2 linked regions of the Homo sapiens genome follow. The protein of the gene in region 1 purifies or fractionates together with the protein of each later gene. This does not show direct contact. Each region holds a gene or a part of one and is shown on either strand. Other genes may lie near its edges.

Region 1 (3,703 bases):
GCATCTTATCCCAGGAGCCACTGCAAAACTAAACAGATGTATATGAAGGGAAAAGACATATGTAATATGATTCATATTATTTGCCTACAACAGTAGGTCTCTTCCTCATTCAGGACCTTTTCAAAGAACTTGTGTTCCACAGAACTGAAATTAGCCTTTTTCCAGGGGCAGATAGGACAGAACATAAAATCTGGGAAATCTTGAAGGCCAAGCTTATTGCCATGTCTTTTGAAGAAAGCCAATCTGAAGTGAGAGAGAATAAAGTCAACTTGAGGGACAAGACAGCGAGAGGGTGTGCGGACCACATTCAAGCCTCTATTCCACTGGTTCCTGAGGCCCAAATGCACCATTACCCTTCTTGTGATGTGGTTGTTCAATCTTTCCTTGGATCTCACAATCCATTTACTTTTAAGGTTAAATAAGTTCAAGTTGAGTTTCTATCTCTCCTTAACCAAAAAGAAGAGGTACAGTTAATCCACTAAAGTTTGGACTAAACAACATATAAAACTTTTCGGCTCAATATGAAAAATCATAAATCTTCACCTTTGAATACAAGCATCCTGTTACCCTAACTGTCAAAGAAACACTCTTAAGTCCAGAATACTTCAATGTGGCTTAGGAAACTTTCAAATTCTAAGTGGATTTATAACCCTTCATATTAATAAATCAATATGGTATTGCCCTCAGGTTTGTTACCTTTTAACTAACTTTTACCATTTTGTCATGATAAAGAGTAGATTGATACTATAGTAAAACTCTATTAGCACTAACTTTAGTGTATGCTAATGCTCAGACTATCAACTAGGCGTTTTCAGTTGATGACAGCACTTAAGAGTAGCTGATATAGACTGGAAATATGTCAATTACTATGAGGTAAGAAGGTTATATAAATGAATGGCTTGTTTACTTCATTTCTTTCTTTTTTTTTTTTTTTTTTTTTGAGACTGAGTTTCACTCTTGTTGGGCCCAGGCTGGAGTGCAACGGTGCAATCTCGGTCACTGCAACCTCTGTCTCCCGGGTTCAAGTGATTCTCCTACCTCAGCCTCCCGAGTAGCTGGGATTACAGGCATGCGCCACCATGCCCGGCTTATTTTTTTTTTTTTTTTTTTTAGTAGAGACAGGGTTTCTCCATGTGGGTCAGGCTGGTCTTGAACTCCTGACCTCAGGTGATCTGCCCGCCTCGGCCTCCCAAAGTGCTGGGATTACAGGCGTGAGCCACCGCGCCCGGCCCATACCTCATTTCTTAAAATTTCTGGAGTTTATATAAGGTTCTAAACCAGGGATTCAAACTGAGCAAGTGACTATCTCCTATTGTATGAGTATTTACTCTTGCTTTGAAATCCTATCTTTTGTCACCGATTGTTAGGAAACTAGGCCAACACAATGAATATATGCAGAAGAAAATGTTTAGCAACAAGCTCAAATTCAAATTTAACAGAGTACTAATAATATTCTAGCTACTTACTTTAGTTCCTGAGCCATCAACAGCTATAGAATCTACACTTCCAGCATGACCTCTACAGCAGTGTAGGGCTTTCACTTTGTTTCTCTCTACATTCCACTCCCATAAGAGAATAGTCTGATCCATAGAAGCACTCAATAATAAGCAGGACAAACTATCTGGAGAAAGGAGAACACAAGAATAAGAAACAAATCAGTATACCATTTAGAATACATCATGTTCTGAAACCAAAGAACTAAATTTTTTTGTTGTTATTGAAAAAGATGTTAAAAAGATAACTCATATGGCCAGGTTTTAAAAGGCTGATGTGGTATAAAGAAAAGATTCTTCAAAAATAGATGACGATGACTGGGTGTGGTGGCTCACGCCTGTAAATACTGACATTTTGGGAGGCCAACACAGGCAGATCACTTGAGGTCAGGAGTTTGAGACCAGCCTGGCCAACATGGCAAAACCCTGCCTCTACTAAAAATATAAAAATTAGCCGGGTGTGGTGGCAGGCGCCTGTAATTGCAGCCACTCAGGAGGCTGAGGCAGGAGAATCACTTGAACTCAGGAGGTGGAAGTTGCAGTGAGTTGAGATGGAGCCACTACACTCTAGCCTGGGCGACAGAGTGAGACTCTGCCTCAAAAAACAAACAAACAGGCTGGGTGCAGTGGCTCACGCCTGTAATCCCAGCACTTTGGGAGGCCAAGGCGGGTGGATCATGATGTCAGGAGTTCGAGATCAGCCTGGCCAAGATGGTGAAACCCCGTCTCTACTAAAAATACAAAAATTAGCCAGGCGTGATGGTAGGTGCCTGTAGTCCCAGCTACTCGAGAGGCTGAGGCAGGAGAATCGCTTGAACCTGGGAAGTGGATGTTGCAGTGAGCCGAGATCATGCCACTGCACGCTAGCCTGGGTGACACAGCGAGACTATCTCAAAAACAAAACAAAACAAAACAAAACAAAACAAACAAACAAAAACAGAAGAAAATAAAAGATGAATGTAATACATTCAATATTAACTTGAAAATGTATATTATCTGATGTAATTTTAATAAAGATACACTTCTAACAATTTATGAATTTTTTATATAATCTTTTTCTTCTTGAACACTGTATTTTTTGAAAGACCTCATAATAACTGAGGTATGAGATACTTCCCACCCACTCCCCATTCTTCCCCAGCACCAAAAATGGCTTATTTCCAAATCCCTATCTAGGATTCCTCTAAGTGTAGGCAAACTGTCCTAACCTTTTTTCACCCAGGCCACATCTTTTACAACATCCGTATGTCCCACAATTGTCATTATTGACTTTCCTTCCAAGGACCAGATCCGAGAAGTCTTATCATAAGAACCAGTCAAGATCCTATGAGAAAAAAAAATCTTATGAAACACAAAAAGCAGTTTTTCCAAACCCTGAAATGTTTCTTTGGCAATGACAAAGTAACTTTGAGGATTATACTTTTAAACTCTTTTTTGATATGAAGATTGAGATTTCAAGCCATACTAGATCAGATCACTTGACGTTTCTCAACCTCCTAAAAATAATACCTGGCATGGCTGGGCGTGGTGGCTCACGCCTGTAATCCCAGCACTTTGGGAGGCTGAGGCAGGCGGATCACGAGGTCAGGAGATCGAGACCATTCTGGCTAACACAGTGAAACCCTGTCTCTACTAAAAATACAAAAAATTAGCCAGGCATGGTGGCGGGTGCCTGTAGTCTCAGCTACTCAGGAGGCTGGGGCAGGAGAATGGCGTGAACCCAGGAGGCAGAGCTTGCAGTGAGCCGAGATTGCGCCACTGCACACCAGCCTGGGTGACAGAGCGAGACTCCGTTTCAAAAAAAAAAAAAAAAAAAAATATATATATATATATAAAAAATATATATCATATATATACATAGTATAAAATTACTTTCAGGCTAGGTGTATAAGCTGTATATGAAACATAAATGAATTTCATGTTTAGACTTGGATCACATCCCTAAAATATTTCACTATGTATATGTTAATATTCCAAAACCACCCCCACCCAAAAAAAATCCTACATCCAAAATACTTCTGGTACCAAACATTTCCAGATAAGGAATACCCAACCTGTAGTACTCTTTTTTCTTTTTGAGATGGAGTCTTGCTCTGTTGCCCAGGCTGGAAGGCAGTGGCGCGATCTCAGCTCACTGCAACCTCTGCCTCCTGGGTTCAAGTGATTCTCCTGCCTCAGCCTCCCGAGTAACTGGGACTATGGGCACAGAC
Region 2 (3,703 bases), on another chromosome or scaffold:
ACAGGTGTACCAAATGCCACTGAATTATACATGGTAAAATGGTTAGTTTTATTTTATGTGACTTTCGCCTCAACTTTTTTTAAAAAGAACCACCACCACTTGCTGAGTGTTTATTTTGGGCCCGTACCGTGCTGATACCTTGCCGTGCTGATACCTTACTGTGCTGGTACCTTGCATGAATCATCACCTCTCTTTGGGGTAGTTCTGCTGGGTGGCTCGGCATCGGTCCCTTCTGTGGGTGCCTCAGAAGGGTACAGGAGGGCCAGGTGACCTGTTAGTAATGGAGCGTTTGCTTCCTAGGTAAAGAAGCTCTCTGTGAGATTCTAGAGGAACCTGGTTACAGGGGATGCCTCTAGGAAGAGGGGGCTGGGGCAGGGGACAGAGATAGATTTACCTAGCTCCATTGTATACCACTTGAGAACTTTTACATTTTGTATCCTGTGAATGGTTACCAACTCAAAAGATAATTCTTTTTTGCTTGTTTGTTTGTTTGTTTTGGAGATGGAGTTTCGCTCTCGTTGTCCAGGCTGGAGTGTGATGGCTCAATCTCTTTGCAACCTCCGCCTCCTGGGATCAAACGATTCTCCTGCCTCAGCCTCCCAAGTAGCCAGGATTACAGGCATGTGCCACCATGCCCAGCTACTTTTTTGTAGTTAGTAAAGACGGGGCTTCACCATGTTGGTCAGGCTGGTCTCAACTCCTGACCTCAGGTGATCCACCCACCTCAGCCTCCCAAAGTGCTGGGATTACAGGCGTGAGCCACCGCGCCCAGCTCAAAAGATAATTCTAAAGTCAAGGGAGAACATCTTATCTACAGAAATGAAGCAAAGCACTGTCTCCATATTGTCATGTCAGGAATAAGCACACGGAGGCCCACCTAGATTCCCCTCTGGTGCATCCCTTTGGTGCACTCAGAGTCATGGTTTCCTCATCCATTGAAGAGCAGAGGTACTCCGGCCTCAGTGGCTACAAGAATCTAGTGACGATGGGACAATGTGTATAGAGCAGTCTCACACAGGGCCAGGCCCTGTGCCCAGGAAGTGTCTGTCATCTTCCTCCTCCCCATCTCATCCGGCCCTGCACCCCCCTCCTCTCCCACCCACGGTTTGAGTTTACCCATTCAGGACCCCCTCATGACTTTATGACTCCTGGTTTCTTCTCAGAGAAAGCCACAGATGGCTCCCTGCAGAGCGAGGACTGGGCCCTCAACATGGAGATCTGCGACATCATCAACGAGACGGAGGAAGGGTAAGGGCCCCCCAAGGAGAGGTTGGGGGCAGAGACGGCCATCCCACCACGCAGCACACTCCTGCACCCTTCCAGGGAGCCCCTGCCCCAGCCCCATTGCTGCCATAGCCACCAAGTCTGACCCAACCCGCTTGGCTGCAGAGGCCATCTGAGCCCCTAGTACCTGAGCCCCATCCAAGGTAGGAATTCACAGCTGGCCCCTGGGGGCTGCCACCCCACCCCGCCTCTCTTAGTGGCAGCCCAGATTCCACACGGATCTGGAAGCCCAGCCTTGTGTGCAGCATCTGCCTAGGATGAGGCAAGCTGGAGACTCTTAATCAGAAGTTGACCCCAAGCGCCATCTGCATTCTGCAGGCGGGAGTGTGTACTAGAGAGACTCCGGCTTTTCTGCGAGCAAAAACAGACTTCCATTTCCTTAAGATTTGAAACCAGCCTGGAGGGTAAGGGAGATCACAAGGATGGCAGGGAAAGTGAAGCTGAACCGTGAGCCTGAACAGCACTGGCGTTTGCCGGGCGTTTCTGGTGTTGGGGTCACGGTATCGTCTTGCTCAGTGCCAAGGAGCCCTGCCAAGGCACATGGTGTGGGGGAAGGATTGGGGTCTTGGCCTCCAATGTCTGACTCGTTGTCACTGACCAGCCGTGTGACCTTCGGAAGTCACTTTACCTCTCTAGGTCTTTGTCCTCGAAGGTGCTCTGTTAGATCCTTCCAGCAATAAGCCCGAGTCCCTGGAGGGAGCAGAAAGGGGATGCGAGGGTCCCTGTCCTCTCAGGAAAACCCAGCGAAGGCTGGGCAGAGGTGTGGGAGCCGTGGGCAGCAGGAAGTGCTGCCAGACGAGGCCTCCATCCTGAGAAATCAGTGTGGACCCTCCTTTCCCTCTCCAGTTCTCACTGGGATCATCCAGCTCTCCCGCGGCCAGTGCAGGGTTCCTCTCAGCCCGGGAGGGCTTTGCGTGGAGAGGCGCAGGCTGGATGCAGGTGGAGGGCAGGGAGTGCCCAGCTCTGAGCTGGAGGGAGGCTGTGGGCATCTGAGTCACACAGTCAAGGCCCAGTCAGGAGAGGGCAGTGGCTGCCAGGAACCTGCCGGTGTCTTCCTCAGCCCTGCTCCCTGATCTTGCCAAGGACTCATGAGAGTGAGGGTGAGGGAAGGAGTGGTGGGCAGAGGTCAGAAGAAAGAAAGCAGGAGGCAGAAAACCTCACCAAGCCTCTAGACAGGCCTGGGAGCTTCATGGACGTCGCAGCTGCAAGTCACTGCAGTATCCTTGGGGACAGCAAGCCCCCATGTCCCTTATAAACATGGGAGGAACAGGCTCGGCGTCGGTCAGGTGCATTGCTATTTATTTGAGCACTTTGTGTGTTCCAGGCAACACAGGAGGCACTAGGGACCCAGCAGTGATCAAAGGCAGGCATGACCCTTGACCTCACCAAGCATGGCACCTAAACTTAGCCTCGTTGCTAAAGTGTCTCCCCCACTGGGTTGTGGCCTCCTTGTCATACACTTTGTGCTCCCAGCAGAGTACCGGACATCATGGGCCCACAGCAGTGGCAAGGCCAGAACTTCCGATTCCCAGTGCTTCCCTCTAGGGAGAGAAGGCGTCCAACAAGGACGCTGTCCCTGCGCTCTAGGAGGCTTCTTCTCTCCCAGGGTGGGCCCCCAGGTCAGTGGCGCATGGCGGAACATGCCAGGGAATGATTCTGATTCCCTTGTGTCTAGGCCACCCTAGAAGAGGTGGAAAGAAGTCACTATAAAGCGCTGAAGTAGCCCGTGGGTCAGTGGCCAGGCCAAGACCAGGAGCCAGGGACGGGCGAGGGGCTGCCCAGGGAGGCAAGGGTTGGAAACTGCTCTCAGGCTTCTGGGCCAGGACCCCCCTTGGTGGGCCACCATCCCTTTCCCCACCGTGTCCCTTCCACCGCAGGCCTGACCGCCTCCATAGCTCTAGCCCCCAGGCAGGCTCTGTCCCTAGGAAGCCTTGCCTCTGCCTTCACTCCTGCTGAGAACCAGTGCCAGGGTTCCAGGCTCTCCTGCCTTAGTCCTGGATGGGGTCAGCACTGACAGCCAGGCAGACAGCCGGATGGGTCCCAGTGGCCACTGGCCAGGCTGAGAAATGTTACTTGTGCTTCAGTAGTGTGATGGGCTCTAGGAAGGGAAGCTGTCCAAAGAGAACACCATCCCTGCCCTCTAGCAAGCTTCTTCTCTACCCAGGGTGGGCCCCCAGTTCAATGTGGCATGGCAGAACAGGCCAGGGAGACTGGAGGACCTGGGAAAGTGTTGTGGAAGGGGTGGATTTTAGCTGAGGCTTCACCTCATGGATGTGGAGGTCAGGAGCCTTCAGGGTGCAAGTGGGGGCCCTGCACAAAGGCTTTTAGACAAGAGCAGTCAGGGCAGCACTGAGTATACCTGTATAGGGCCGAGGGTGGAGGATGGTGGGAATCACAGAGGGGACAGGGAGAGCAGGCT

What was found. The genes of interacting proteins can lie anywhere in the genome.
Region 2: the proteins of WDR12 (region 1) and TOM1 fractionate together in Homo sapiens (co-fractionation; one large-scale study listed by BioGRID). This does not show direct contact.

Annotation. Positions count from the first base shown.
Region 1 is NC_000002.12:202,894,599-202,898,301, forward strand, and holds part of WDR12 (ribosome biogenesis protein WDR12), read right to left. Parts: intron 2,818-3,703; coding exon 2,702-2,817; intron 1,622-2,701; coding exon 1,467-1,621; intron 29-1,466; coding exon 1-28.
Region 2 is NC_000022.11:35,316,714-35,320,416, forward strand, and holds part of TOM1 (target of Myb1 membrane trafficking protein), read left to right. Parts: intron 1-1,163; coding exon 1,164-1,248; intron 1,249-3,703.